7 linked regions of the Homo sapiens genome follow. The protein of the gene in region 4 interacts with the protein of the main gene of each other region in a biochemical or structural test. Each region holds a gene or a part of one and is shown on either strand. Other genes may lie near its edges.

Region 1 (4,485 bases), on a different chromosome or scaffold from region 4:
AATGCACCTATGACACTCACTACCTCCCCCCATGACACACTCATCTCTGAAACATTGCTCAACTCTCCAGTCAGTTCCAACACCTCAACCACCCCGACGTCCAAGTTTGCCTTCAAGGTTGAAACCACTCCACCCACCGTGTTGGTCTATTCAGCCACCACTGAGTGCGTGTATCCAACGAGCTTTATAATCACCATCTCCCACCCCACCTCCATCTGTGTGACCACGACGCAGGTGGCCTTCACCAGCTCTTACACCTCGACTCCCGTGACACAGAAGCCAGTGACCACCGTCACCAGTACTTACTCTATGACCACTACTGAGAAAGGAACGTCAGCCATGACATCTTCTCCCTCTACCACCACTGCAAGGGAAACTCCCATAGTGACAGTGACACCCTCCTCTGTGTCAGCCACAGACACAACCTTCCACACTACAATCTCGTCTACAACTAGAACCACAGAAAGGACTCCCCTGCCCACTGGAAGCATCCATACAACCACGTCCCCAACCCCAGTATTTACTACTCTCAAAACAGCAGTGACTTCCACTTCCCCCATCACTTCTTCAATCACTTCCACAAATACAGTGACTTCTATGACAACGACCGCCTCCCAGCCCACAGCCACTAATACATTGTCATCACCCACTAGGACCATTTTATCTTCCACACCTGTCCTGAGCACAGAAACAATCACCAGTGGTATCACAAACACCACCCCCCTATCCACCTTGGTGACCACACTCCCCACTACCATCAGCAGGTCTACACCTACATCTGAGACCACCTACACTACTTCTCCCACCAGCACTGTCACAGACTCCACTACCAAAATCGCCTACTCCACAAGTATGACAGGTACATTGTCCACAGAGACTTCTCTCCCACCCACCTCTTCCTCTCTCCCAACCACAGAAACAGCCACGACTCCTATGACAAACTTGGTAACCACCACCACTGAGATCTCCTCCCACAGTACTCCCAGCTTCTCTTCATCAACCATCTACTCCACAGTCAGCACATCCACAACTGCCATCTCCTCACTTCCCCCTACCTCAGGTACTATGGTGACTTCCACAACCATGACCCCATCTTCTCTGAGTACAGACATCCCTTTCACAACACCAACAACTATCACCCACCATTCTGTGGGCTCTACCGGTTTCCTGACTACAGCAACAGACCTCACATCAACATTCACGGTTTCCAGTTCCTCAGCAATGTCCACGAGTGTCATTCCATCTTCCCCCAGCATTCAGAATACAGAAACCTCATCCCTTGTCAGCATGACCTCTGCCACTACTCCCAATGTGAGACCAACTTTTGTAAGTACACTCAGCACTCCTACAAGTTCCCTCCTGACGACCTTCCCAGCAACATATTCATTTTCATCTTCCATGTCTGCCAGCAGTGCTGGGACCACTCACACAGAGAGTATCTCCTCACCTCCAGCCAGCACCAGTACACTCCACACAACAGCTGAATCCACCCTGGCACCCACTACCACCACCTCATTCACAACTTCCACAACTATGGAACCACCTTCAACCACTGCAGCAACTACAGGAACAGGTCAGACCACCTTCACCAGCTCTACAGCCACATTTCCTGAGACCACCACACCGACTCCTACAACTGACATGTCCACAGAATCTCTCACAACAGCCATGACTTCTCCTCCCATCACTTCATCAGTCACTTCCACAAATACAGTGACTTCTATGACAACTACGACCTCTCCTCCCACAACCACCAATTCTTTTACATCACTGACCAGTATGCCTCTGTCTTCTACACCTGTCCCAAGCACAGAAGTAGTCACCAGTGGCACCATAAACACAATCCCTCCATCTATCTTGGTGACCACACTCCCCACTCCAAATGCTTCATCTATGACTACATCTGAGACCACCTATCCTAATTCTCCGACTGGTCCTGGTACAAACTCCACGACGGAAATCACCTATCCCACCACTATGACAGAGACATCATCCACTGCCACCTCTCTTCCACCCACCTCTCCCTTGGTCTCAACTGCAAAAACAGCCAAAACTCCTACCACAAACTTGGTAACCACCACCACCAAGACCACCTCACATAGTACCACCAGCTTCACTTCTTCAACCGTCTACTCCACAGCCAGCACATACACAACTGCCATCACCTCAGTTCCCACTACGTTGGGTACCATGGTAACTTCTACATCCATGATCTCATCTACTGTGAGTACAGGTATCCCTACCTCACAACCAACAACCATCACTCCCTCATCCGTGGGCATCAGTGGTTCATTACCTATGATGACAGACCTCACCTCAGTGTACACAGTCTCTAACATGTCTGCAAGGCCAACAACTGTCATTCCCTCATCTCCCACTGTCCAGAATACAGAAATCTCAATCTCTGTTAGCATGACGTCTGCTACCACTCCCAGTGGAGGACCAACTTTCACAAGTACTGAGAACACTCCAACAAGGTCCCTCCTGACAAGCTTTCCAATGACACATTCATTCTCTTCTTCTATGTCTGAAAGTAGTGCTGGGACCACTCACACAGAGAGTATCTCCTCACCTCGAGGCACCACCAGTACACTCCACACAACAGTTGAATCCACCCCATCACCCACTACCACCACCTCATTTACCACATCCACAATGATGGAACCACCTTCATCCACTGTATCAACTACAGGCAGAGGTCAGACCACCTTTCCCAGCTCTACAGCCACATTCCCTGAGACCACTACACTGACTCCTACAACTGACATTTCTACAGTATCTCTCACAACAGCCATGACTTCTCCTCCCCCCGTCAGTTCTTCAATCACTCCCACCAATACAATGACTTCTATGAGAACTACAACCTATTGGCCCACAGCCACTAATACATTATCACCACTCACCAGTAGCATTTTATCTTCTACACCTGTCCCAAGCACAGAAATGATCACCAGTCATACCACAAACACCACCCCTCTATCCACCTTGGTGACTACACTCCTCACTACCATCACCAGATCTACACCTACATCTGAGACCACCTACCCTACTTCTCCCACCAGCATTGTCTCAGACTCCACGACTGAAATCACCTATTCCACAAGTATAACAGGTACATTGTCCACTGCCACTACTCTCCCACCCACCTCTTCCTCTCTCCCAACCACAGAAACAGCCACGATGACTCCTACCACAACCTTGATAACCACCACCCCTAATACCACCTCCCTTAGTACCCCCAGCTTCACTTCTTCAACCATCTACTCCACAGTCAGCACATCCACAACTGCCATCTCCTCAGCTTCCCCTACCTCAGGTACCATGGTAACTTCCACAACCATGACCCCATCTTCTCTGAGTACAGACACCCCTTCCACAACACCAACAACTATCACCTACCCTTCTGTGGGCTCTACCGGTTTCCTGACTACAGCAACAGACCTCACATCAACATTCACTGTTTCCAGTTCCTCAGCAATGTCCACAAGTGTCATTCCATCTTCCCCCAGCATCCAGAATACAGAAACCTCATCCCTTGTCAGCATGACCTCTGCCACCACTCCCAGTTTGAGACCAACTATCACAAGTACTGACAGCACTCTAACAAGTTCCCTCCTGACGACCTTCCCAAGTACATATTCATTTTCATCTTCCATGTCTGCCAGCAGTGCAGGGACCACTCACACAGAGACTATTTCCTCACTTCCAGCCAGCACCAATACAATCCACACAACAGCTGAATCCGCCCTGGCACCCACTACCACCACCTCATTCACCACATCCCCAACGATGGAACCACCTTCAACCACTGTAGCGACTACAGGCACAGGTCAGACCACCTTCCCCAGCTCTACAGCCACATTCCTTGAGACCACCACACTGACTCCTACAACTGACTTTTCTACAGAATCTCTCACAACAGCCATGACTTCTACTCCCCCCATCACTTCTTCAATCACTCCCACCGATACAATGACTTCTATGAGAACTACGACCTCTTGGCCCACAGCCACTAATACGTTATCACCACTCACCAGTAGCATTTTATCTTCTACACCTGTCCCAAGCACAGAGGTGACCACCAGTCATACCACAAACACCAATCCTGTATCCACGTTGGTGACTACACTCCCCATTACCATCACCAGGTCTACACTTACATCTGAGACCGCCTACCCTAGTTCTCCCACAAGCACTGTCACAGAGTCCACAACTGAAATCACCTATCCCACCACTATGACAGAGACATCATCTACTGCCACCTCTCTTCCACCCACCTCTTCCTTGGTCTCAACCGCAGAAACAGCCAAAACTCCTACCACAAACTTGGTAACCACCACCACCAAGACCACCTCACATAGTACCACCAGCTTCACTTCTTCAACCATCTACTCCACAGCCAGCACACCCACCACTGCCATCACCTCAGTTCCCACTACCTTGGGTACCATGGTGACTTCTACATCCATGATCCCATCTACTGTG
Region 2 (4,485 bases), on a different chromosome or scaffold from region 4:
CAAGGACTATAAGAGTTTATCCCAACCTACCTTGCCTGCCCCATTTCTAAACTATTTCTCTTCACACATACAATAGGCAGCAGGACAACCCAACTCTTACTACTTGCTGTTTTTCTGCACTTAACCTACGCACATCTCTATGCTCAGATTACCTTCTAGAAAGCACTTTACTCCATTACCACTAAGCATTTGACTAAACTGATCACTCCTTTCTTCTTGTAACTCTTCACTTGGCTCTAGGGATGTCACATTCTGCTAGTTTCCTTCTGTCTCACCAGCTTATCCCTGTCAGTCTCCTCTGCCAGCTCCTCCTTTTCATTCTAACCACTAAATGTTGGGAAAGCTCCAGGCTCAATCCTTTTACCTCTTTAGCTATACTCACCAAGTATAGATGATCTCATCCAATTCTATAGCTTTAAATATATGATGGTATCTCTCATTTATGGAGAGAACAGAGAGCCTTCTACCTTGTAATTATCTGTGTAAACCTGAGCCTCTACCCCTTTCAAGGTCCACACAAATGTTACTTCTTTTCCAAAGTATTTAACGATCTGCTCTGTTCTTCCAGCCCACACGACCAACCAAAGTAAAAAAAAAAAAAAAAAATCCTCTCCTCTTCTCTCCTTCTAACCTGCCAAAACACTATTAATCCTTTCTTTCCATTGCATTGATCCACTTCTTACCTATTATTTATGCTTACACTATCCCCATTGCTAGGATATAATATCACCAAGAGCAAAGCACATCTCCTATATCTCTGAATTCTCCACCACACAGTCAAAAGGTGCAGTAACTTACTATGTCAGCAGATGCTCAACAAAAAAATACTTAAAAATCATTACTTAACGCATTACATTAAAAACAAACAAACAAACAAAAAACACTGAGATCTCCATGTGAGTAAAGTTTAGTTTAGGAAACCATAAAAACCTTGTTAATTGAGCCTCTGGCAATAGTTTTTTTAATGCTATAATAAATTATGGAATTTAAAATCAGTTTGTCCTTTTCATTCTTACCTAGCTCCTGAGGAGCCAATATTTGCATTATTTGTTGTTACTGTTGTTAAATTTTAATACATCTAATTTAGTCTCAACTTCTACTAAAAATTGAATCTAAAAATAAGTTAAATTTCCTTAGAGATGATGGAAGACACTGATGTCAAACAGGCCTGTGAAGAGTCTGAATAAATGTTCTTCATGAAATGTGAGAATGGGAAAAAAAGAAATTTTTAAAAATAGCTTATTTTCTATACATGTGATTCTGCATATGTGTTTTAAATTAAATTAAAAATTATAAGAAAAAAGTGACAATAAGTTAAACCTACCAGCTGTCCTGCTTTGTATATCTTTCCATCCCATTCTATTGCTGCATATGTTGCCCAGGGACCTTGCTTTTTAGAAGGAAGATCAGGACGTGTAATTACTCCCTTAAAAAGTGTAAATTTTATTTGTTTATCATACTTCTCATGACAGTCCTTCAGCCACAAAGCAAATTCTCTGTCAATTTTCATTCGCTGTTCCTGTAGAATTTTAAAATGTTTTATGAAATATAGCTACTAGCAAACAAATATAACCATAAACATTTGTCATTCATTTTATTTTTTTCCTTTCATATACTCCAATTCAGAAAACCTAATAAAAAATTAAATATTCTGCTGGATCCTTCCTCTGTACACATTTAGGATATTTCAAACAAATGCATTACCAAAGAAGAAAAATTTGATATTATTCTTAGAACCAAGGTATCCCTGGTCAATATCAACAATAAAACCTTCCTTTCCGCCTTTAATTCCTAGGATACACTAAAAACTGATGAACCCTTACTGCCTGGGAGGAGAACTAGCTAGCTCCACAAAAGGGATGAGTGGAGGCCTTCTAACTGTAAACCACATTCTCAATGGGACGATAAAAATCTCATTGTGTATCAAGTACTTTATAAACGTGAATACAATATACAAACAGATAGATGGTAAATCTGCAGTAGTAAAATTTCATTGGGGAAAACAATTGAGAAAAAGATGCCAAGAAAGACTCCTTATGAGGGTGATAACGAAAAAAGGTTGAGAAACACTGCTATGCAAAATGTACTTTTCTTTTTAATTTTCTCTTTTATATATAGAGCCTATCCAAAAAATAAACTCATAAAACTGAAGTGTTTTCTAATAATACTTAAGAAGATGTGTTTTTGCCAACCATTCTTCACCCTGTTGGGAGAGAATACAGAAATCTGTATTCAAGCATAAGGTGCTATACACTTGTTTGATGCCTGCCTCTAGGGCAATGAGGAGGTAAGACAATCTCCCCATTACATGCTTTCGCAGAGGACAGTCTGTAAAGTTACAGAACTCCATTCCTTCTTACGTACCTTATACCATAATATACCATTTCCAAAGGAAAGTAAGGCAAAATTAAAAATAATTTCAGCCTAAGTTTTTGATGCTTGCTGTCAAGAAGGATACTATCTTAGTTATTAATAAATTTGATTTTTTTAAAGTTATATGAATGAAAAAGGAAATATATATACATGGTAAAGACTCACAGGTCCAATATGGTATACAGTTTCTGGGAAATTGCTGCCACACTTACTCCTATAACTAGGTACCAACTCTTTCCCAAATCAGCAAATCATTGTTGTCAGTTTGCCAGCTGACATGGAGATTAAATTAGTAACTAGGAACCAGAAAGTCTGACAACCAAAATGTTAAACTACCCTTCTAAAACTCTCAGGATGGATTCACTATCAACCAAACAAATTACCAAATGCATTAATTCCAGACACTCAGTAACAGTCAAAGTACAATTCAGAAGGCATGTCAAGGTGACAGGTAACCTAGGGGAAAAGTATGCAGATATTCACTTTATAATATTCTTTCAACTTTTCTGTGTATTTGAACATTTCCTTCTTTTTTTTTTTTTTTTAAATACAGAAGGTGTCTCACTGTATTGCACACGCTGGTCTTGAACTCCTGGCCTCAAGCCATCCTCCTGCCTCAGCCTCTCAAGTAGCCAAGATTACAGGTGTGAACCATTATGCGCAGCTTGAATGTTTCAAAATTAGAAAATATATATTTTAAAAGTACAGTGTAACAAAGGAATAGAATTAACTTATTCTGGATAGCTTTTGAAAACACCCACTGCTCAATAAATGTTGGATAACTAACACCATATTATAAATGAATTCTAAGTGTATTATAAAGGAGTAGTAACTCATTTTGATAAGGTCTTTCTCGGTGTATAATTCTTAAAAGTGTCCTAATCTTCTATGATTCACAAGCTTTATAAGAGCAAAATTAATTTCAACATCTTACAGGACTGACTGACTACAAATACTATGTACTATGCACTGTATTTATTGCCCAGCAATAAATTGATAATAAAATCATCTATTTCTTGGCAATTCAACATTAAACTACTGAAAGAGTAGTATCAAAAGTCTCTGAGGTCTGTTCACAGAATACAAGTACACTAGTATACTAGTTTCACTCAACTTTGTAACAAATTTCAAAGTGAAATCATTCTTGTTGTATTAATCAATACATGTATTTTAATACTGATCAATCTCAAATCACCTTTTAGCTCAAAGTACTTCACAGTTTTACCCCATTTTTACCCTCAAGACTAGCTAAAAATTGCACAACTAGGTTATTAATATACAAATATAGCCCTTAAAGCAAATACAATTGTTCATACATGTTCTCATTAAGATGCTTCTGTGGCTTCTACTATGTCAAGGGCTAGATATTAAGATCTTGGCTGGGTGCGATGGCTCATGCCTGTAATCCCAACATTTTGGGAGACCAAGGCAAGTCGATCACCTGAGGTCAGGAGTTCGAGACCAGCCAGGCCAACATGGTGAAACCCCATCTCTACTAAAAATACAAAAATTAGCCAGGCGTGGTGGCACGCACCTGTAGTCCCAGTTATTTGGGAGGCTGAGGCGGGAGAATAGCTTGAACCTGGGAGGCAGAGGTTGCAGTGAGCTGAGATTGAGCCACTGCAATCCAGCCTGGGAAACAGAGTGAAACTCCTGTCTTAAAAAAAAAAAAACAAAAAAAACTAATGAAGATATGTAAATTCTATCCAAACCTAGTCTTTACTAGGTAGGTTTAGTCATTACTAAAAAATTAGCTTTAAATTTTTTAGTAATGTGAACACTTGACTGCTCATAAAAAAATTTATACATCATAGTCTTTTGATGCAAAATATCAATAAAAACCTACACTGCTAGTGTCTTCTTTTACTTAAAAATAAAACATTTGCAAATATTCACAACTTTATATTTAAAAATCATACCTGTCCATTTAAAATCCTTGTAAAAAGGGTGTTCTTATCTTTCAATTTTAGCTCAAGATCCATAAACGTCAATTTATTTGTGCTGACCTGGAATTTGTCATTAGTGAATAATGCACCAGATATCCTATTGTAGCATTCAATTGGTGCAAGCCCTCTCTTCTTAGGAGGAGTACACCAGTCAAAGCTTGAACAG
Region 3 (4,485 bases), on a different chromosome or scaffold from region 4:
AGAAGAGCTCGGCACTCTTGTCAGTCTGTGTGCTGCTGTCCTTGCTGCCTGTCTTGGCGTGGGCACTGCTGGCTGCCGTAGTGGAGGCTATGGAGGACAGTGCTGAGGTGGGTGGGGGTGGCAGCAGTGGGGCAGAGGCATGCTCATGGTGCTCCTTCCCCAGCAGCAATCCTGAGGGCAGAGAACAGATTTTTCAACATTCTTTTTTTCCTTTTTTTTTTTTTAAATCTAGTCTTGCAGATCTGTTCCTTGTTGATTGATGATTGCTTCATTCATTCATTGATTCATTCCCCAAGCATTTAATAAACACTTATTACAAGGCTGATAAAATAACAAACACTGAGAGAATAAAAAATGGAAGACCTAGTCCCCTTCCTAAAAAATTGTAGGTTTTTTTTGTGTGTTTTTTTTGTTTTTTTTTTTTGGAGTGGAGAAGTAGTTGTCAAGTAAACTGATTATAACTTAATATATAAACTGTAGGATACAAATAAATTATTCACAGGGTGGTATGGACGAACAGAGAAGTGCCTAATTGCCAGCAGGAGGGGTAGGGAGGTTCCCACAAGGCTTTCCAGAGACCATGCTTGCTGTTACCAACGTGGCCCAGAAGGGCTGGCCTGAAGCGTGGCAGTGTGCTTAAGAAAAACTACAAGGCTTCCCCGGTCCTAGACATGTTCCCATTGGCTTGCTGCTCTTCTGAATAGTTCACAATTCCACCCCACTCCTTGTAATGGATGATGGTCCCCCACAGGCTTGGATTCAAAGATAAACATGCTACCTGCACATTTCTGCGGTGGAACTGTAGCCTCCCAGAAGCAGAAAGCCAGCCAGCCTCCTAGGAAAGGCCACTTAGCCCTCTCCTTACCCCCTTCCTCAAGAGTAGTGAGGCTGGGGTGGGGAAGAGGGGATGCTGGCTATGGAAATGGGAGGCGTGGTGTGCAGAGGTGTCCATTTTCCTCAGAGCCTTCCTGGAAAGCTGGGTGGGAGGATAACTTTTTATTTTTAAATACAGCACACACGCGGGAAAGTGCCAGCACCCTAGAATGCTAGCCTATAGAAAAGGCGGTAAGCGCAATCAAGTATTTGTTCTCTTATCTGGTTAGATAGCCAGCAATTCATAAAGTATCCTCGCCAGAGCTGTTTTAAGGTGCCCATTTAGAACTCAGGGCAGTTCAGTTTGTCGAGAGCAGTGCTTTTCAAAATGCAATGTGCATAACAATGACTTGGCTATACCGTTAAAAGGAAGACCTGATCCAGCAGGCAGGGCCTGGGATTCTGTATTTCTAAGAAGCTCCCAGATGGTGCTGGTGCCACTGGTCCACAGACCACGCTGAGCAGCAAAGGCCTTCACCTGCGCTTCCCACATCATCTCACTTCATACTGCATGTCATTCCTGCGAGACAGGCCTTATCCTGTCTTACGGAGAAGGAAATGGAAGCTCACAAAAACTAACATCTCACAGCTAAGAAGCAGCAGAAATGGGACTCAAACCCAACTGTGCCTGACTTGGAGTCCAACCTATGTTCTTTCCACTTCATCGCCCAGCCTGTGGAAACTCCAGAGTCTGCAGGATGTCCTCGTAGGGAGTGACAGGCTGAATAAGTCACTAGCCAGCCATAGCTCCTGGGATACCCTGGGCAATTGGGAAGGTATATGCTGTCACCTCCACCTCCTTCCAGAGCCTATCAGGCAAGCAATGGTGACAACATGTGGGGAACTGTGCAGTCACCCATGAACCTGCCTCAGCCCCTTGGAGAGTCCCTGTGTTTGTGACACGTGGACACCAATGACAACAATGAGGAGGAATATCAGTGCAGGGAACACAGCAGCTCTTCCTTCAAACAAGTCCTCCGGCTCCCAGGCCTGGTTTAGACATGCCAGGTCCTGGGGCATACGGGCACAGACACCAGAGATGCCTGCCTGGCTGCACGTCACAAACAGGGGACTCCCAGGGAGGTTGCTACCAGAGCTGAGCAAATTTTCAAACTCCTTGACCAGGCCTGGCTCAGCACTGCCTCCCAGCTCTCTAGCTGGGGTGGGAGCTAAATGTCCTTGGGACAGTCTTTGATGATCTCAGCTGCTGTCCACACACGTCTTCTTTGAAGTGCATTTCCTTTGGGGGCAGGGGCTGCTGAAGCCACCAGTGGAGGGACTTCAAACACAGATTCTGGTTGGGAGCCTTTGATCCCCCCAACTCTGTCGGGTTCATATGGAAGCTCTTATCCCCTCTGGCCCAGAGCAGCCAGTCTCCTTTGGGGTCTTATGCTGAGGACCACTGGCTCTCAGCTGCACAGAGAAACAAAAACACGATCTGATGTGGGGAAATGCATCAAAGAAGGGCCAGACCCCTGGAGAGGCCAGAGTGCAGGGGAAGGATGTGGAGGACCTGTGTCTGAGCACGCTGCCTGCTTCCCCTCCAGCTTGGCTAGCCCAGCCAGCCAACAAGCCTGCCTGCCCCCAAGAAACCTACTCCTGGCTAAGACCACACTTAGGGAATTCTGCCCATGCAACAACAATACAGCAAAAACTTACCACCCCTACCTTATGCGAGAGAGCACTTCTTCCAATGTGCTCTCCCCATTATCCCATTCTTCCCTCCCACGCCCCATGGGGTAAAGCAGGCAGACACTGTCCTCCCCCCATTATCCCATTCTTCCCTCCCACGCCCCATGGGGTAAAGCAGGCAGACACTCTCCTCCCACCATTATCCCATTCTTCCCTCCCACGCCCCATGGGGTAAAGCAGGCAGACACTCTCCTCCCCCCATTATCCCATTATTCCCTCCCACTCCCCATGGGGTAAAGCAGGCAGACACTGTCCTCCCTTTCCAGACGTGGAAGCAGAGGTGGAGCCGTCATACAACTGGTCTAGAGCAGAGCCAAGTTCAGAGGCGTGATGTCTCTAGGCTTTTCTATGAGAGCCTTTTGTGTTATAAGGGTCACCTCAACTTACAACAATAATAGATAATTCTGATCTGAGTCAACCCATGGCTAAGAGCTACTCCAGTGGTGCAGTCTTTAGAATTTACACAATGCTTCCACATATCTATAACTGAAGTATGACTGATTTCCCTCCCCACTTCACAGATGAGTAAACTGAGACCAGGAACTATTCAGGGACATTTCCGTGTCCCATGAGTGGCAGAGAAGCTGTCTGGTCTTGCTTTTCCAATCATGGTCTGACAGAGGTGTGGGGCTCACCTATGCTCCCCTTCCAGGTCTTCTCTTCCTTCTTTTCCTCAGCCAGCTGGCTGCTGGTAAGAGAGGTCTGGCGAGAGTGTGTCCCAGTAGCTGCTGCTATGGATGGAACGGAGCGGGCAGGACGTAGGCTGGAGGAGTCTGTCTTCCCGGCATCTTTACGAGATCGCTGCTGCAGGACCTTAATCATAGCATCTTTCTCTATGATTTTGGCATGGAGATTTTTAATACTGTAAAACAAAACAAAACAGTCTCCATAAAAAGCCACTTGGCTAGAAAAACTTGAAACATTTATCTCAGGCTGTCCCAAAGACTTTAATTGTAATTTAGGGATACAGGATGAAGCACAGTACGAGTCTTCAAATGTTGATAATCTCCAAATTGTTAAGACAGGTCTTTTGTCATATGTCAAAAGAGTACACCTTCTCTGGCACCTTGGGAGACTGGGACTTCAGCGAGGTACAGTTAGAATGACCGTGGCCACATTCCTGGACCGAAGTCGGCTGGGGACCATATTTAGAGGGTCTAGCATTGGCGGTGGGGGCCGGGGGTAGGTAGGGGATAGGGAAGCATAAAAACTCTAAAGCCTCAAACAGGGTGAGCTTTCAGCTAAAGTCAATTTCTCTATTTTCTAAGAAAAAAGAACCAAGATGAACAGGTTCTCTGGTAGAAGATGATTTTTCTGGAAGAATGCTGAGTTATTTTCACAACTTTGATAGTAACTCACTGAGCCTATCTATCAATGGCTCAACTACTCAGCCCTATTTTCACATCTGCAAAATAAGAGGCCTAGGGCTCCCAGGGTTCCACAAGCCCTTAGGTAGTGAAGGGGGACAGGCTAGTTTTATTATGTCAAAAAGTCTGCTGGAAATTTTGTGTAGCCCATCAGAAGAGTGCATTAGCTAAATATGTTCTTTATTTTGGACTGGAATATATAAATTCTGGCTCAAAAACTCTGAATCTTTGGGATATAATGTTTCCCCCTTTCAGCTCATAATGTCATAGAGATAGACACCAAGAAATAACACAGACATCTAAATTCTTCTGTCACTAGACTCAGCCTGCATCTTAAAACCGGCAGGTGACACGCAATTTCCCCCAGAGAACTCCGGCACCAGATCCATTGCTGAGTGGAACCACGTGCTTAGGTTGGAACCTTTTCCTTCTCTCCATGGCACAGCATGGGGGAGGAGAGTTTTTGGAGACCTCATGCTCACAGCCTTTCAGAACAGGACAGAGAAGCAATCTGTTCTGGAAGGCCTGGAGTGTGAATGCAGCGGGCCCCACA
Region 4 (4,485 bases):
CAAACCTATTAACCCACTTGATCCTTTTGCATGGTAGATATTTATTTATTTATTTTTTTGAGACGGAGTCTCGCTCTATCACCCAGGCTGGAGTGCAGTGGCATGATCTTGGCTCACTGCAAACTCCGCCTCCCGGGTTCACGCCATTCTCCTGTCTCAGCCTCCCGAGTAGCTGGGACTACAGGCGCCCGCCACCACGCCTGGCTAACTTTTTTTTGCATTTTTAGTAGAGACGGGATTTCAGCGTGTTAGCCAGGATGGTCTCAATCTCCTGACCTAGTGATCCGCCCGCCTCGGCCTCCCAAAGTGCTGGAATTACAGGCGTGAGCCACTGCGCCCGGCCTGCATGGTAGATATTAATTATTGACCCATTTCACAGCTGAGAAAGGAGATCAAGGAGGGGAAAATGACTTGTGCAACTGTCCCACTAAGAAAACTCTGCCTGCTGTCTAATTCTAATTTTTTTTTTTAAGGCAGGGTCTCACTCTGTCACCCAGGCTGGAGTGCAGTGGCATGATCATAGCTCACTGCAGCCTCCACCTCCCAGGCTCAAGCAATCCTTCTGCCTCAGCTGCCCGAGCAGCTGGGACTTCAGGTGCATGCCACTGTGCCCAGCTAATTTTTGTATTTTTTCATAGAGACCAGGTTTTCCCACGTTGCCCAGGCTGGTCTCGAACTCCTGGGCTCAAGCCATCCTCCTGCCTTAGCCTCCCAAAGTGTTGGGATTACAGGCATGAGCCACCGTGCCTGGTCTAATTCTCTATACCAAAATTTCTCTGTTTATCTGAACGGTACAGTTTCTGTCTCTCGACTGGACCCTGACTGACACTGGTGATGGTAACAATGACAATTATTATTCTGATGGCTGCCTTCCAGGGATGAGCACTTAGTATACACGATGGCTCACCCTCGTCAATAAGAGCTGGCGTTATTCCCATTTCAGGAAGAAGGATGGAGCCTCAAAGAGGGGGAGGGACTTGTTTGCTCCCCACCCCCATCTGCCTGTGGGGCCAGGGCTTCTTCCCCATCAGCTGCACGAGGGCCTGGGAGTCAGAGGATTGGTTGTGAGGCCTGTGTCGCAGAGCAGGAGACAGGAGCACGTGGGGAGAGAAGTGCCGGCACCATGTTGGTTCGGTTTGACAAACACTGAGTCTTCCCTGGGCTCCAGGCATACTGCTGGCTGCCACAAGGCGGCACGTGGCCACCCGCCAAATCCCCAGCACTGCAAGTTCTGCCGAGGCAGAGGGGGCTGAGGGCTGTTTTGGAAGACTTCCTGGAGGAAGGGGGCTGACAGACCAGCTCTGTCATGCTAGCGCCTGTCTCTCTAAGTACCCCCACCAGCTGCCCTTCAAGGGCAGGAAGCATCAAGAAACAGGTGGGGAGATTGAGGCTTTCCATGGGGCTGACCTGCCCAGGATCATCTGCAGCTCAGGTGGCTAAAGTACCAGAGGTCATGACATTGAAAGACCCGGCTCTTGCCAACCAGCTGCCACGAGCCCCCCTGCCTGCTCCGTACCTCTCCTCTCCTAGGAACTCCAGAAGTGGGGGTGTTCTTCCCATCTCCCTTCAGCACTCCCTTCCTGCTCAGGGACCCAGGTTGTCAGGACCCCCAAGGTCCTGAATTGCTAAAACTCCCATCCCACTGTCATTCCCTTCAGGGGCCACGGGGGCTGCACGTTGGCCTTTCCCCTGTGCCCTGCCGTGCCGCCACGTGGCACCTGCACACACCACTGGCTGAATGCAGACACAGGGGAACTGAGGACCCACAGCCCCCTTTCCTCTGGCTTTCTGCACAGGCTGTGCCCCCACCCTGGAGCACCCCTTTCTCCTCTTTTCTACTCCTGCTCATCTTAACACTGGGGGCACCTCCTCCAGGAAGCCACCTTCACCCCCAGCCACTCCATCCCAAGCCCAGTCCCAGATGTGGGCTCCCGCAGGGATCTGGATTCCCTGTGACTTTGCTCTGAGCACTCTGGACTGTAGCAGCAAACTATGTTGTCTGCCCTCTGCTAGGCCATGAGCTCAACACTTTGTCCCCAGCACCCAGCTCCAGGCCTGATACAGAGGAGCTCAGTAAATATCTGTTGGATGGATGGATGGATGGATGGATGGATGGATGGAGGAATGAATGGAGGAATGACTGGATGAAAGGGTGGAAATAGTGAAGAAGTGGAGGGTGCAGAGATGCAGTCAAGAGGAGTGTCTGAGCTTGGCCCTGGGGGAGGCGGCTATCGGGGATGTGAGGGGCCTGGGGTGGCCGCTGCTAGGCAGACCTTGTTGTAGAGGGCGCAGATGTGCAGAGCCGTGTTCCCCGAGGCGTTCTGGGCTCCAGGCTCAGCCCCGTAGAAAAGCAGATGCTCCAGGTGCTGAGAGTGACCCCGCTGGCAGGCCTGGGCAGGACAGGGAGCGAGGGGCATGGATCAGACCCAGGCTGTTCTCCCTCTGGGCCAAGAGTCTGTCTATGACCTGTGCACTGGCCTTCTCATCCTATCGTTCACCGCATCCACCTCCCCATCACCTTTTAGCCCCGCTTCCTGCTCTGGGACCCAGGCTGTCAGCCTCAAAACCCAAATGTTCAGTCATTCCAAGGCCCAGGCGTCTGGTCTGCCTCCTTAAGGGGGTCAAGAGGACAGCCCATCCCTCTCAGGGGTCAAGGCATCAGGTTCCCCAGCCTATGCCCCCTTAGGGTCTTTCTGCCTTCACCCCCACCATTTCCTCTTTGGGGACCATGTTATTCTCACCCCCATGCTCTGTGAGGACCCTGGCATCTGGTTCCCAGCCCCAGCCCCTTGGATGCCTCAGGGACTGGGTCCCCCACCCCAGCCCTTCATGGCCTGAATCAGGAGCACCTGGTGGATTTCCTGCCAGCCGTTCTCATCAGCTATGCCCAGCTGGGCCCTGTTGAACAGGAGCAGCTCGCAGCATCGGGGGTCACCACCCACCATGGCCGTGTGGAACAGAGGGGTCAGCCCCCGACGGTCCTTGTAGTTGGGGGAACCCCCAAGGTCCAGGAGCGCCTAGGAACGGAGAGAGAACCCAGTAGAAAAACACAGATGACAGTCACACATTAACCAGCTCATTCTGAAGGGCCAGGGGGACTGGACCGTCCTGGGTGACCTACAGTGGCCAATGACAGTCTCAGTTCTGCCGTGATGCCCTTGTGCAACCTTGAGCCTGGCCCTTTCCCTCCCTGGGCCACTCTGATTCCGTGTGAACAATGTGGGACTTGGGTAGATGCCTCCAGAGGACACTTGCACTCTGACATCCCACCCAGCCTTCCCCCTGGGGGCGATCTTGGATGAGCCATTGAAAGACATTAGGGGCCACAGTACCCACCCATTCCACTTCCTACAGGTGGGTTGTTGGGGACAAGTGAGAGGACAGAGTCTGGATGCTGGAGGGTCTCTGACCAAGTGGGAGGTGTTATTAGGTCCAGGATCTCAAAGAAGGGGCACAGCAGGAAGCCAGGGGACAGGTAAGCTTGGGTAAGGGCAAGGATCGGGCCGGCCTCACTGGGGCTGGAGGCCACTTCCTGCCCCCACTTGAAGGACAGCTCTGGGTGTGGAAGGCTGGCAATAATGAACATTAATAGGAGAAAGTCTTGGCAGCAACCTCGTGTGAGGACAGCCTGTAGCAGTGCCACCCAACAGAACGTTTCCCCCATCATGGGGATGGTCTGCAACTGCACCACCCTATATGGCAGGCACGTGTGGGCCCCTGAGCACTTGAACGTGGCTAGTGAGCCTGAGGAACTGAAATTTTAATTTTACTTCATTCTATTTAATTTAAATTTAAACAGCCCCAGGTGGCCAGTGGCTACTGGCTTGGATAGCGCAGGTCTGGAGGCTGGGAGGGGCGTGTGTGAGCAGGATGTGGGTTTGGGGGTGAGTGTGCATGGGAGATACATGAAGAGGATCTGTTAACTCCAGGGGTATACTGCAGATCTTTGTGGCTGGCATCTGACTGCATTAGGGGCTCTTCAGGAAAGCATCTGAGGGAGAGAAGGGAGGGGCCGTTTAGCTGGAGCAGCTGTGCGTCGGGGTGCTTCTCAATGGCTGTCTTTGGGGGCAGCCCATCCTGACCCTCATGTGAAGAGCAATCAGGTGTCCTGGCGGGGGCAGGGGGAGAAGAGTATTTTAAAATTAGACTGTGCAGCTGCCGCTGTGTATGTATTTTGTGGGTGTATGGGTTTGTCTATTTGGGAAAGTGCATTTGAGGCTGTGTACGTGGGGAAGGGGCTGTATTTGCATGTGAGAGAGGAGGGAGGGGAGCTGGTGCAGTGCTGGTTTGGAAGGGTAGCTGGGGGGCTGTTTTCAGGGTGTGTGTGGAGGGGCTCTATCTGGGGGCATAGCAGGGAGCTCACTTCGTATTTTAAGGAATGAGAAGGGTTTACACCTTGGGGAGACAGAGGCAGATTTGGTATTAAGCTGGGCCACAGGGGATGGAGACGTTCTGGGTGTTTAGGGGAGGAGGCCGTGCCCGGGT
Region 5 (4,248 bases), on a different chromosome or scaffold from region 4:
AGGGAGCCCCACTCAGGGCTCTCTGTCCTTAGCCCACACCGGGCACCCTTTTCAGGTCTTGCAGGTGTCGACTGTCTTCCGGCCCAGCTCCAAGCCCTCCTCTGGTTGCCTGGACACCCTCTCCCTCTGTCCACTCTTCCTTTAATTTATTTGACCTCCCACTACCCAGAATGGGAGACGTGCCTCCCCTTCCCCACTCCTTCCCTCCCAAGCCCCTCCCTCTGGCCTTCTGTTCTTGATCTCTTAGGGATCCTATAGGGAGGCCATTTCCTGTCCTGGAATTAGTTTTTCTAAAATGTGAATAAACTTGTTTTATAAAAAGCAGGCTTGGCTGTGTCTTCCCTACCATGAGACTGTAAAACGCTCAGGGTGCATAGTAGGGAGGTGGTTGGGGATTGACAACCTATTCTGGATGACCCAGGCCTCTCTTCCCACCACAAACACCATCTGGCCTCCATGGGCCATGCCACCCACCCCAGGAGGGGACACCTGGGTTCCATCTGCAGCCTGAACTGTCGGGGCTGAGACAACTCCTGATTGGACTCCTACTTGGGGAGGGAAGCATAGAAAAGGAGGGTAGGTTCCAGCTGCCTGTGGTCACCCCCGCACCAGCTTCTCCCATGTTAAAGGGCATGGGCCTCCAGGGGCAGTGCCTTTTCTGAGCTTCCCAGACTTTCCCCAACTCTTCCCACGTCTCATTCTCCTGGTCAGGCTAGTCTTGGACCTGACTCCTCCCACTAGGCCCTGGGGCTGAAATTGTTGTTCCTTCTGACCCATAGCAGCAGAATAGAAGCCTCAGAACACAACTGATACTCAGGCTGGGACAACAGGCAGTCAGGGGAGGGCCTGTGTGTCCACAGAGCCATTGCACCCACATGTACTCGCTGTACCTGCATATACCCTCTACCCGCATATACCCACTACACCTGCATATACCCGCTTCACCTGCCTGTACCTACCCTGGGGTCTCCTCCCTCCCACCCTTCAGCTTCACCCCTCCTCCAGTGCCCCAGGAGTTTCATGAATTTTCTTGCCTAAGGATTCTCTGATCCTAAAATTCTTACCTGCACGGCACCTTAAGAGGCATCTGGCAGGCCTCCTTCAGTTGTTATTTAAACATTTATTGAGCATTACGAGTTTGCTGTCATTTTTACAGATGAGGAAACTGAGGCCCAGATATGCGATTTGCCCAGAGTCATAGAGCTAATTAGCAAGTGTCAGGAGTAGGACCTAGGTCTCCTGACTTGTTGCACTGTACAGTGGTGCCCTGAGTGGTGACAGTGGCGAGGAGAGGTGTGGCAGGGTCTCAGTGACTTCAGCAGGCAGGAGGGGCCTTTCCAGACTGAGTTTCTCTGCTTGTTCAGCTGCAATGGGTTGGCTCCTGTGTGAGTGCGTGTGTGTGGATACCAAGTAGCCCACCCGCTCTTGTCCAGACCCCCCTGTTTTACTGAAACCCAAATGAATCCCCATTCTCCATCCCAACATCTGTTCTTAGGGGACCAGTCAATGCCAGGCTTCAGGAATCTCATCTTTGATGACAGGGCCCCAGTGGCCCTGTGACCTGAGGCAAAGATATCCGTGTTTTGACTGAAAGGAAGGGACTGGGACTTGGGTCCTCTCTGAGTGAACCCCAGCTGTCTGGGCTGCTTCCATGGCCCCCTTTCTTGCTTCCAGAGGACCCATAGGGCCCTGGCTATGCCCATAGGACCCTGGCTGTGCCCCATAGGACCCTATCTGCCCAGCCTGGAACAGAGAAGACTGGAGTGCTTTCCCCAGGGGGCTTATGAAAGGGCAGGAGTGGGATGTGGCCAGGGCCAAGGGAGGAGGTCCTTGCTGGGCCAGTGCTGCTGTGTGGGAGACAGGCGCTGTCCCAGGGCAGGCTCTCCTGGGCCTATGCTTTTCTCCAGGCCAGCTTCAGGTCCCTTCCACCCCTCTGCCTCTCTCAACTTGCAGTTGTTCTCCCTCACTATCCAGGAAGCTGCCGCTGGTGACTGGGATGTGATCAGGAAGCAGGTGGAGGTGGGGTGAGAATATGCGTCTTTGGGACCCCCTGGCCCAATTGGGCTGACAGCAGGCTGCAGACACATCCAGATGTTCTAACTCCTATCGCTTCTCTCCGATTTTCTCCCACATTCAATCTTGCCTCCAGTCCTACAAGGGGTTCTGTCCTTTGCCCCTAAAACTCTTCCTGCTCCACCTCCCCCCGACCTCCCCAGGAGCCCCCTCAAGTCCTTCTGATGGCTTCATCTCTCTGTCGGGCCTGCTCAGCTTCCAGACACCCCCTCCACTTGTCACTGCCCTGTTTCCATTGATGGTTGAGTTTCTGGGCCCAAAGTTAAACTCTTCAGCCTGGGCTTCGGGTCCCTTTCCCACACATAAAACCCCACCCTTCACATTTCTCTGTCTGCTCCTGTGAGGATCCTCAGCTTCTTCTCAGCTTCTCTTCATCTTCCTCTCAGCTACTCCTCAGTTTCTATGCCCCATGTCCTGAAACGACTTCCAAGTATTCACTTAGAGCACAGGTTCTCAAAGTGTGGTCCTCAGTCCAGCAACAGCAGCATGACCTGGGGACTTCTTAGGAATGCATGGTTTTGGTCCCCACCTCTTGGGTCAGAAACCCTTGGAGTGGAGCCCAAAAATCTGTGTTTTACCAAGCCCTCCAGGTGATTCCAACGCACACTGGAGATTTCTAACTCCTGACTTACATATTCCCTATGCCTTACACTGGCCCCAGCCTTCTGATCACCCACACTCCCCTACCCTCCACGGGACTGCACAGGTTGTCAGTTTGAATTATCCCTCGTTCAGTCACCACAGGTAGATTCCTCTGTTTTCCCAGGTGCCCCTTATTTTGAGGACAGGAACCAGGTTTTTGAATGTCCACTCCACATGGCACCCAATCAGTGATGTGAATGACTGTGCCCCAAGGACACACTGCTTTCCTAGGGGCTCCCTGTTTCCCAGCTCTAGTGAACCCACTTTCTAGATCTCTCTCCTGGCCCTTCCTCCCCAGAACCTCTCTCTCTCTCTTCCTGCCTGTGCCTGATACCTGTAAGATCTCACTCCACTGTAAGAAAATAGCTATCCCTGGTTTTCCTTTCCCAGGCCCCTCTCCAGGCCCCAGCTCAGGCACCTCCCCGCTCTGCCTGCTTCCCTGAACTTGCGGACTAAGGTCATTCACACCTTGCTGAGCCCCTTGCACGCCTTCATCCTGGTGAGGGTGGAGCTAGGAGGGCACCCTCCTCATGTGCCCATCTTGGTCCGGCTCCTTTCTCCTTCACTTCAGCTTGGCCTACCGTGTCATTAGACAGTTGTGCCATATGTGGGGAGGCTGGCAGAAGAGGTGACTGGGGACTGCAATCCATCCTATACTCTGCTCCCCAAGCCATGCACCCTGGTTTGGGGCTGTATCTGTCTGGAGGAAAAGGGTTCCTTTTTAAAATTTGCACAGGGGTGTTCTACAGGTTAGTGGCAGCCCTGAGTGGACCAGTTGTCTACTGGTCCATCTATGTATCTGTCAGCTGTCTTTATCTGCTACCATCTTCCCATCCAACCCCCAAAAGTCCATCATTCTGTCCATCCATCCACTCATGAACAAATGTGAAGGTCAAACACAGACTGGCATTTTCACCCGGCCCCACCCTCCATTTCCCTGAAATCAGGACCCCTCCCTTCCATACTGGTTTCTAGACTTGAGGTTCTGGGGGACGGGGACTTTCCAACTTTAGCACATTTCCAGGGGCTTTGCCTTCCTCCTCCTCCTCCTCCTCCACCACCTCCGATATGCAGTTCCCCATGTATCTGTGTCTGGCCCCCGGTCTGCCACAGGGGTCTGGAGGAAGCTGGTCACACCTTGGACTCACTCTCTGGGGGTGGCAGGCAGCCATTCTGCTCCTTGTCAGCCCCAGCTTCCCCACCCGCCCCCTCCCCCGCCCCCTCCTCCTCCACCTTCTCATCCAGCCGGCTGGGGATGGACCAGTAGAGATGGGCATCAAGGCGGGCGGCAGCCTCTGCCAGCTCTCGAGCACTGCACGAAGGTGTGGGCACCTCAAAAGTCTCGTGAAAGCTGGCATAGTCCACTTCGTAGAAGCCGTCCTCCAGAGTCAGCACTGACGTGAAGCGGTGGCCCCACAGCACCTCGTCTACCAGGTAGGAGCTCCGAGCTTGGCATGTCATTCCTGGGAGGAGGGGCACCGGTCAGGGGGAATCTCAGCTCCAGGCTTCCCTCTCCTCTTCTCATTCCACAAC
Region 6 (4,485 bases), on a different chromosome or scaffold from region 4:
GAAGTGAGATGCAGTTTGATGCTAAGGATGAAAATGCCAAGTCTGCCAGCATATAGAATAGCTAAAAAATGACTCATTCTAGTTTTGATATGTTAACTCTATCAGAGTTAATAATAAAAAAAAATCAAGCAACTACATACCCACAAGCTCTTTATTTTAGCTGCTAAAGGCTATTTTTTCCTTGGCACTGATGTAAGAATCTTTTGTTTTCCACTTAATAAGGAGGCTTAATCCTTTAATATACTCTTACACTACTATAAGTACCACTGTACTTAACAGTACAGATTGTCATTGCTCTTGCAATGTGAGGACATTTTGCAAAAACCGTTGGAGACATATATTCAGTATTATTTGTGTACGGATGTAGGTACCTGAATTGATTCACTAGGTTATGTTATGCAGCAATAAAATGATTGAAACCCCAGAAAGCTCTGGTACTGTGTTTAGCTTATTTTAATAGGTCAAATATGCTAAAAAAAAAAAAATTTCAGTATTACATTGGTACTTTATACATTGTATTTATAGAAAGCTGGGAGTTTTCTAATTTTAAAACAATTTATAATCATTTTAATGTAATGAGGTGATTGGTTTTATATGCAGCTTAACTAGTTTTTTTTTTTTGGTCACTGTAGAAAATGATGAAAGATAATAACTTAGTAAGGCATCTGGATGCTTGTGAAACCATGGGAAATGCTACAGCTATTTGTTCAGATAAAACAGGAACTTTGACAATGAACAGAATGACAGTCGTTCAAGCTTACATAAATGAAAAACATTATAAAAAGGTTCCTGAACCAGAAGCTATTCCACCAAATATTTTGTCCTATCTTGTAACAGGAATTTCTGTGAATTGTGCTTATACATCAAAAATATTGGTAAGGTTTTTGAAATAATTTATGAAAATTAATTTTTAAATCTATAATGATCAGACTATATGTAAGTCTTCAGACCACCATTACTGTATGTAAACTGAACTGTTAAGTTTTTAAAAGGCATATATTTATTTATATAATGGTTTTTAAATTTGTGTTATGAGTGAGGTCTGCTGATCAACATAAACATTGTTTGCTTACATTTTTCTCCTATATTTTGAATTTCCTGTGTTCAGAAACTCTCCAGCCTTATAACCAGAGCATGTATTTAATTTTAAATTCTTGTTAAGCTCATTTTTGAGAAAGATCAAACTGTCTTACTATAGGAGGTCAGCTCTCAACTTACAGAAAATTTTTAAGCCGATTTCAACTTAAAATAACATGTTTTATATATGGTTGCCATGTGTTCTGTTTGGTTTCTCAGTAGTTCCTACCTAAAAGGTGGTCCTTAGACCTTTTTAGAACTAATGCAGTAAAGTAATTCTAGACTTGTGCCACCATATAATAAAAAATTTTCAACTTACAAGTTTTAAAAATCTTATTTATAACAGAAAGAATGCGATGTTATGTTTGACTTAATCTCTTCTAGTGATTTATGGATGAAAATCATTAACAAAAATAATATTGCAAGCTGTTCATTAGGGAAAACATACATGAATTGGATGATTACATTGGAAAGTTATGGGATCTTGGTTCTAGATCTAGCTTTGCCTTTTACTAGCTGAAAGTCTGAGCTACCTTCTTTAATTACTGAGTAAAGATGATCACATCTGCCCTTAATACCATTGTGATAATTATGTAAAGTGGTATTTCTGAAGGCACTATGAAGGAATTGAAGCTTCTCACTGCATTTAAGAGAACAGTATTTTAATGAATGTACTTTTAAGCCATAAAAATTGGTAGATTTAATTTTGAATGATTTAGTATAAAAGTTAAGTGAAAACAGGAAAAGGAAATTAAAATTAAGTTCCACTCTGTATTAGGAACCAACTATAAACTTCATACATCTTATATCACTTAATTTTGGGGTCATAAGTGCTCCTATTTTACAGATGCTGAAGCCAAGGACCAAAGCAGTTGGGTAATTGTCAAATTTCACGTAGCTAGTAACTGGCAGGACTGAGATTAGAATCCATGTCATTCTCACCCCAGGCTCCTTTCTACCTTACTTTTCTATATCCTTCTTTAAAATGTTGATATTAGACAATTGCTTTGTAATTTTATTTTAGAATATCGCAGTCTGTTTTACATTATAAATTAAACGTTCTTAGAGAAACGAGATACTAGCTACTAAATGTTTTTCTCTTATAGCCACCAGAGAAAGAGGGTGGATTACCTCGTCACGTTGGTAATAAAACTGAATGTGCCTTGTTGGGACTTCTTTTGGATTTAAAACGGGATTATCAGGATGTTAGAAATGAAATACCAGAAGAAGCACTGTACAAAGTCTACACCTTCAATTCTGTTAGGAAGTCCATGAGTACTGTCCTGAAAAATTCAGATGGAAGTTATCGAATATTCAGCAAGGGTGCATCTGAGATAATTCTGAAAAAGTAAGAGTAAAATGCTTGGATGAATAAATTGCTGACTATAGTTGCTTTATGGAGTATCTACTGTGTTGTTATTGTTGTTGTCTTTTTGTGAACATCAGGCATTTGATAGGACCTCAGAGTTTTTTAGCATATTTTATGGTATCCAGATATTTGCCCCTGCTATTCTGCCATTTTCACACTCTAGCTTCTCTTATTTCTTAGCATTTTGTTATAGGGAAAATAAGCTCATTACATTCAATCTGGTATGTTTAATGAAGTATACTTTGATGTTTATTTTTAGAAGTCGATTTACTTGTTATTTAATATGCAGAATCTTGAAAAGCCTCCTGGGAAGAAAATCAAGTTTATGTCTTTCTTTCTTTCTTTTTTTTTTTTTTTTTATTTGTTTAAGGTGGAGTTTCCCTGTATCACCCAGGCTGGAGTGCAGTGGCGCGATCTCAGCTCACTTCACCCTCCGCCCCTGGGTTCAAGGGATTCTCCTGCCTCAGCCTCCCAAGTAACTGGGATTACAGGCACCTGCCACCACGCCTGGCTAATTTTTGTATTTTTAGTAGAGTCAGGGTTTCACCATGTTGGCCAGGCTGGTCTTGAACTCCTGACCTCAAGTAATCTGCCTGTGTCGGCCTCCCAAAGTGCTGGGATTACAGACGTGAGTCACTGCACCTGGCCTCAAGTTTAGATCTTCAACGCTCATTGTGGTTACTGGACTCTGAATGTGATAAGAGAATTATGAAGTAATTTTTAGAATAGCAAAGCATAAAAGCTGGATCTTGGAAATTCCCCATTTATATCAAAATGAGATTTATCATGTTTATGCTGCTGCAGTGTCGTATTTAAATATCTCCTGTCATTTTGAATACTAATTTTTCTTACTGTCCTTTTACAGATCAGTAGCTTTAATTTTGTTATTACATGTTCACATATAATTTCCCTGATGTTTATTTGTTATTAAAGGTGGTGAAATTATTTTAGTTTCTTTAATTTCATTAAAGAAGTAGAGAACTGGTTAAAAAAAAATACTGGTTAAGAGCAAGTTGGGAAAATTGGAACTCATTTGAAATTATAATATTTAAAATATTAAAGTAAATGTTTAAGATATACTTTTAATTTGCTTACATGTGGATTATAAGCCAGTATTAATGAACACTTTACAATTAGTTTAAGAGACAAATATATAAATAAATAACTGAAGGCAGCATATAATAAATTGGTACAAAGTTTTTGGGTGAGAGATCACACTGTAGGGATGTGGCATTTAAGATAGATTTTGGTATGAAATGAGAACTTCGAGGTGGGGAAACCACAGCAGAGGAAAGGAGATGAGAATATGCAGGTCATACTGGGGAGGGGAATATCTGGTTGTATAGTTCAGCTGAATAGTGATGGGCTTTTGTGGCACACAGGCCATATACAGCTTTCTTCTTGCCACAGTACACTCAGTTACCTGATTTCATTGAAAAGGTTAGAAATCTGTTTCAACCCTGGCTTGCTGGGTAGTAGATAGATGGTTTAGGAGAGAATTTTTTTTAGTCAAAACTGATCAGGCATTGACTCTTTCTCTGCAACTAACTAGCTTCTGGATATGGGGCAGATTTTTCCCTTACTTCCATTTTTCTCATCTGAGAAAGCGGGTGATGACCACCAACTCTGTGGCACTTAAATGAAGTAATGCATACCAACTGTCTAGTGTGAAGCCTGGTGGACAGTAAACATACAGCAAGTGTTCCCACAGTAATATTTGCATTTTGTTGTGGAGACTTTTTAAATGTTGGGCTGAGCAGTTAAAATTGAAGTAAGCCAGATAATGCAAATGAGGTATTTTTTTCTTCAAGTAGTAGAATCATCAAAGCTGTGATTAAAGATAATTCTTGCATCAGGGAACAAGGTGGGTTAGAGGGAAAAAAAAAATCAACTAGAGACATATCAGTTAAAAGGCTATTGCTATTACAATAGCTGTAGCTTTGTAGCTTGAAGTAAGAACCAGAAGAAAGTAGTAGCAGGAGAAATAAAAAGGAGTGGACACATTGAGGAGGCTGTTCAGAGGAGAAATGTATAGGACT
Region 7 (4,574 bases), on a different chromosome or scaffold from region 4:
TTACTGTAATATTATTGTGCTCCTTAGGTGATATCATGTTTCCATTTTTTGTTTTCTTGAAGTCTTCCATTTCCATCCTTGCATTTGAAGAAAATCACTTCCTCCAGTCTTTATTGACTAGCTTCAGGAGAGAAATGCCTTCATCAATCTGCCTGGCTAGGAATTCTGAGGCTCTCTCCTACCTTTCCTGTGGATTCACCTGCTCCACAACCCCTGTTCCCACTTGCAGCAGGGGATTCTTAAAAGTTATATGCCTTATCTCAATCCCACAAAGCCAGGCCAGGTGCTGACAGCTTCCTGTTTGTTTCCCCTGGGGTGGTGTCCTGAAGTACTCAAGTTTGTGTACCTTGCTTCAATTCCACAATCAAGCCATCTGTCTCTATATTTGATGCTTGCAGTTGCCATCCAATGTGGCATGCTTGGGAAGCCAGCCTCAGGGAGATGGGGGTGAGGTGCACAGAGAATTTGGGGTGGCCATGGGTCATGTGGGAGGTCCATATGCAAGGTATCCCAGTGGCTGGTGAGGCTTCCTGATGGAGTCTGTGGAGTGCTGAGTAGGTTTCAGAGCCTTTCTTCCCTGCTCCCAGCCTTTCCCAACGCTTAGCTATGACAGTCACCTCAATATTTTAATTGGAGCAAGAAAGAGGTAGGGTTCTTAGGCAGCATCCCACACAGCTAGGGGCTGAGCACTCTCACTATGCTATCACCTTCTCCCATGGGAGAAATTGTGGACTGAGGGGAGTCTCTCTTGCCACTAAGCTGTGCCAACTTCAAAGAGTGATGCAGATAAAGTGAAAATCTTCTTCTTCCTTTTCTTTAATGCATTTATTCTCAGATATTTCTGCTCCAATGGTGTGCTGGAACTTCCACGTAGGACTTCTGGATTCCTACAAAAGAACTACCATCTGAAAGTACTGGTAAAAATCAATGCTTCTGTGGAAGAATGATGATATAAAGCTCCTATTCTGCCATCTTGCTAACATCACTCTCTAAAGTTACTTTTAAAGGAATAAAATATTTTAGTATCTATTTTAGCCCTGACCCTGGTAGACTTTGTTTCCTCATTTTATGTTCCATGCACTACCTCATTCCCTCTTTGCCCATTCTGAAATTTTATAATCCCTTTAAACTCCCCATGTGTACCTAAGCATCAGAATTTTTCAAAAAGTCACAGAAAATTAACATAAAAAAATAAATTTATTTTGAGTCTGAAATACTGAAGAACAAGCATACAGATAAATAGTACAAAGAACAAAAATTAGAACATGAGTAATGACTTAAGACACAGGCATTTTTCTAGCTATTGCATACAGACACATTTTTACACACAAACATATTTTTTAAAGACATCTCTCCAACATTCTCAAAAGGCAAGAGCTGTATTTGTGACATTTGTAATAAATGCAACAGCTTTTGAAACATCCAGTTTCTTTCCTAAGTCATTTGATTAAAATTCACACAAGTGATGATTACCTATTCCATTTTCTGAAAATACGACATACAGTCATGTTTCGATCAACAATTGACCACATATGACAGAGATCCTATAAGATTATAATGGAACTGAAAAATTCCTATCACCTAGTGATGCCACAGCCATTGTTACATTGTAGCACAATGTATTATCTGTTCTATGTTTAGATTACACAGATACCATTGTGTTACAGTTGCCTACAGTATTCAATACAGTACCATGCTGTACAGGTCTGTAGCCCAGAAGCGACAGACTTTGCCATCTAGCCCAGGTGTGCAGTAGGCTCTACCACCTAGGTTTGTGTAAGTACACTTCATGATGTTCACACAATGATGAAATCACCTAATGACAAATTTCTCAGAATGTAGCTCTGTCATGAAGTCACACATTACTGTAGAATTATAACATTCTTGCTTGACATATTACAGACAACTTTCACTCAAAATACAGAAAAATTATCAATTCATTTTGCATTGTCACATATTCCATCACCTTTCTAATCAACAAGGAAAAATAAACATAACATATATGTATATGCTTTTCAGAAATAAAGTATTCTAAATTTTATGTGTAATTTGTTCCAAACCTCAGGAACTCAACAAGTACATGATTATTTTAAACAACATTGATAGTTTAAAAATAAAAACATTTGGGGAGAGACCTTAAAATATATTTTTGGCCGTTTTTACCTGTAATGTAAATATCAAAGGAAGCTAATGATTGGACATACTCTGCTTGAGTTACCCTCAACTGACTAAAAAGGCTAAAAAGAAATGTAAAAGTCCGTTGTATCCATAAGGTAGCAATCACATTTGTTTATCCAATTGTCCAGGGAATTTTTCTCTGGCTGGATTCAAGTTCCTGTGATACAATAATTTGGTCTATTCCATGATTAATGGCATTTAATATTTTGGAAAGATCTTTGAGATCAAATTGAACACATTCATTTCATGGATGAGGAAAACGCTGCCCAGAGAGGTTTAATGATTTGTCCAGAGTTATAGGAACATACAGAAATACATCCAGGACATGGACACAGAGTTCCTGATTCTTAGTCAAATTCTTTAGATAACACATTCCCCAGGGTCAGATTCGACATAATTTACAGTCACTTGATTATAGAGAATGTTATAATTTCAATATATATCAATGCATATATTCTGCCTGATATAGTTGGGATACTTGTCCCTCCAATCTCACATTGAAATGTAATCCCCAATGTTGAAGGTTGGCCCTAATAGAAGGTGTTTGGGTCCTGCGGGTGGATCCCTCATGGCTTGGTGCTGTCCTTGCAGTAATGAGTGAGTTTTCACAAAATCTGGTTGTTTGAAGGTGTGTGGCACCTCCCTGCTCTCTTGCTCCTGCTTCGCCATGTGACATCTCTGCTCCCACTTAGCCTTTCACCATGAGTAAAGCTCCCTGAGGGCTCCCCAGAAGCCGAGCAGACACTGGTGCCATGCTTACACAGCCTGCAGAACTGTGAGCCACTTAAACCTCTTTTATTTATAAATTACCCAGTCTCAGGTATTTCTGTTCTTTTTTTCCTGAAACAGAGTCTCGCTCTGTCACCCAGGCTGGAGTGCAGTGGCGCAATCTCAGCTCACTGTAGCCTCCGCCTTCCAGGTTCAGGCAATTCTCATGCCTCAGCTTCCCAAGAAGCTGGGACTACAGGCGTGTGCCACCATGCCCGGCTAATTTGTGTGTGTGTGTGTGTGTGTATGTATTTTTAGTAGAGATGGGGTTTTGCCATGTTGGCCAGACTGGTCTTCAACTCCTGGCCTCAAATGATCCACCCACCTCAGCCTCCCAAAGTGCTGGGACTATAGGTGTGAGCCATCGTGCTCAACCTCAGGTTTTATTTATTTATTTATTTATTTATTTATTTATTTATTTATTTATTTGAGACAGTCTCACTTTATCTCCCAGGCTGGAGTGCAGTAGTGTGATTTTCGCTCACTGCAACCTCTGCCATTCGCATTCAAGCGATTCTCCTGCCTCAGCCTCCTGAGTAGCTGGGATTACAGGCGCCTGCCACTGCGCTAATTTTTGTATTTTTAGTAGAGATGGGGTTTCACCATCTTGGCCAGGCTGGTTTTGAACTCCTGACTTTGTGATCCACCTGCCTTGGCCTCCCAAAGTGCTGAGATTACAGGCATGAGCCACAGCACTGCGCCTGGCCTTTTTTTTTTTTTTTTTTTTTTTTTTTTTTTTTAGTAGAGATGGGGTTTTACCATGTTGGCCAGGCTGGTCTTGAACTCCTGACCTCAGGTGATCCACACGCTTCAGCCTCCCAAAGTGCTGGGATTACAGGCGTGAGCCACCACGCCCAGCCTAAATATTTCTTTATAGCAATGCAAGGATGGCCTAACACACTGCCTAAATCAAAATTGCTATTCACTTCAAGGGTATTCATTACCTGACTAGCTTTTTTGGGTGCATATGAACATAATGTAAATTTTATGGCTGATCAAATGTCATTACTATGAAGATACTCCCTATGAGCTCACAGAGTCAGGACATCAACAATATTTAAACTCTCACTGTAAACATGACACAGTGGTAGGCACTGTGGAAATATATTTGGTCCTATTTTCCCTACCTGAGCATGTAAAAGAGCAGACTATTCTAACAGTGTGATGACTCTGCAGTGAAGAAAAGAATCCACTCTCCCGGCACACTGATAGAGCATGTACCTGGGCATAGTATTCCTCAAAGGAGAATGGTCATAAAAATGATACTGCAGAATTCAAATAGCATTCAAGAGGTCTCCACTAAATGGGGACATGTAGGCTATCTGAAGTTATTATAGATTTCCTTATTTCAGGAATCTTCAAGGCAAAATATACGATGTGATACATGAAATCATGAAATAGCCAGTAACATACATGATGAAATTATCTTACTAGAAAGTTACACATCAGGAAAAAAAAAAAAAGAGAGTTTAAAAGAAAAAAAAGGCAATGGGTACAAAACTACTCTATCTCAAGTTGGAGTGAAAAAATACAGCGTTAGCATTTATCCATGATAGAAAGGCAGCACAGAAAAGAACTCAAGACAGAATGAACCTGTAACCAGGCTCCTTAATTAGAACATAATTCTA

Evidence for each region.
Region 1: the proteins of SHANK1 (region 4) and MUC3A interact in a test that uses a peptide from one of them, tested with the Homo sapiens proteins (one large-scale study listed by IntAct).
Region 2: the proteins of SHANK1 (region 4) and SMCHD1 interact in a test that uses a peptide from one of them, tested with the Homo sapiens proteins (one large-scale study listed by IntAct).
Region 3: the proteins of SHANK1 (region 4) and AMOTL1 interact in a test that uses a peptide from one of them, tested with the Homo sapiens proteins (one large-scale study listed by IntAct).
Region 5: the proteins of SHANK1 (region 4) and KCNJ9 interact in a test that uses a peptide from one of them, tested with the Homo sapiens proteins (one large-scale study listed by IntAct).
Region 6: the proteins of SHANK1 (region 4) and ATP2B1 interact in a test that uses a peptide from one of them, tested with the Homo sapiens proteins (one large-scale study listed by IntAct).
Region 7: the proteins of SHANK1 (region 4) and FLVCR1 interact in a test that uses a peptide from one of them, tested with the Homo sapiens proteins (one large-scale study listed by IntAct).

What each region holds. Positions count from the first base shown.
Region 1 is NC_000007.14:100,951,996-100,956,480, forward strand, and holds part of MUC3A (mucin-3A precursor), read left to right. Parts: coding exon 1-4,485.
Region 2 is NC_000018.10:2,700,726-2,705,210, reverse strand, and holds part of SMCHD1 (structural maintenance of chromosomes flexible hinge domain-containing protein 1), read right to left. Parts: intron 4,477-4,485; coding exon 4,293-4,476; intron 1,520-4,292; coding exon 1,325-1,519; intron 1-1,324. UniProt on the Homo sapiens protein: Non-canonical member of the structural maintenance of chromosomes (SMC) protein family that plays a key role in epigenetic silencing by regulating chromatin architecture.
Region 3 is NC_000011.10:94,864,884-94,869,368, reverse strand, and holds part of AMOTL1 (angiomotin-like protein 1), read right to left. Parts: intron 3,428-4,485; coding exon 3,201-3,427; intron 172-3,200; coding exon 1-171. UniProt on the Homo sapiens protein: Inhibits the Wnt/beta-catenin signaling pathway, probably by recruiting CTNNB1 to recycling endosomes and hence preventing its translocation to the nucleus.
Region 4 is NC_000019.10:50,709,098-50,713,582, forward strand, and holds part of SHANK1 (SH3 and multiple ankyrin repeat domains protein 1), read right to left. Parts: intron 3,018-4,485; coding exon 2,850-3,017; intron 2,391-2,849; coding exon 2,274-2,390; intron 1-2,273. UniProt on the Homo sapiens protein: Seems to be an adapter protein in the postsynaptic density (PSD) of excitatory synapses that interconnects receptors of the postsynaptic membrane including NMDA-type and metabotropic glutamate receptors via complexes with GKAP/PSD-95 and Homer, respectively, and the actin-based cytoskeleton.
Region 5 is NC_000001.11:160,087,416-160,091,663, reverse strand, and holds the end of KCNJ9 (G protein-activated inward rectifier potassium channel 3), read right to left. Parts: intron 4,179-4,248; coding exon 3,847-4,178; 3' UTR 1,101-3,846; downstream 1-1,100. UniProt on the Homo sapiens protein: Inward rectifier potassium channels are characterized by a greater tendency to allow potassium to flow into the cell rather than out of it.
Region 6 is NC_000012.12:89,617,939-89,622,423, reverse strand, and holds part of ATP2B1 (plasma membrane calcium-transporting ATPase 1), read left to right. Parts: intron 1-632; coding exon 633-875; intron 876-2,183; coding exon 2,184-2,425; intron 2,426-4,485. UniProt on the Homo sapiens protein: Catalyzes the hydrolysis of ATP coupled with the transport of calcium from the cytoplasm to the extracellular space thereby maintaining intracellular calcium homeostasis.
Region 7 is NC_000001.11:212,895,968-212,900,541, reverse strand, and holds the end of FLVCR1 (choline/ethanolamine transporter FLVCR1), read right to left. Parts: 3' UTR 1,179-4,574; downstream 1-1,178.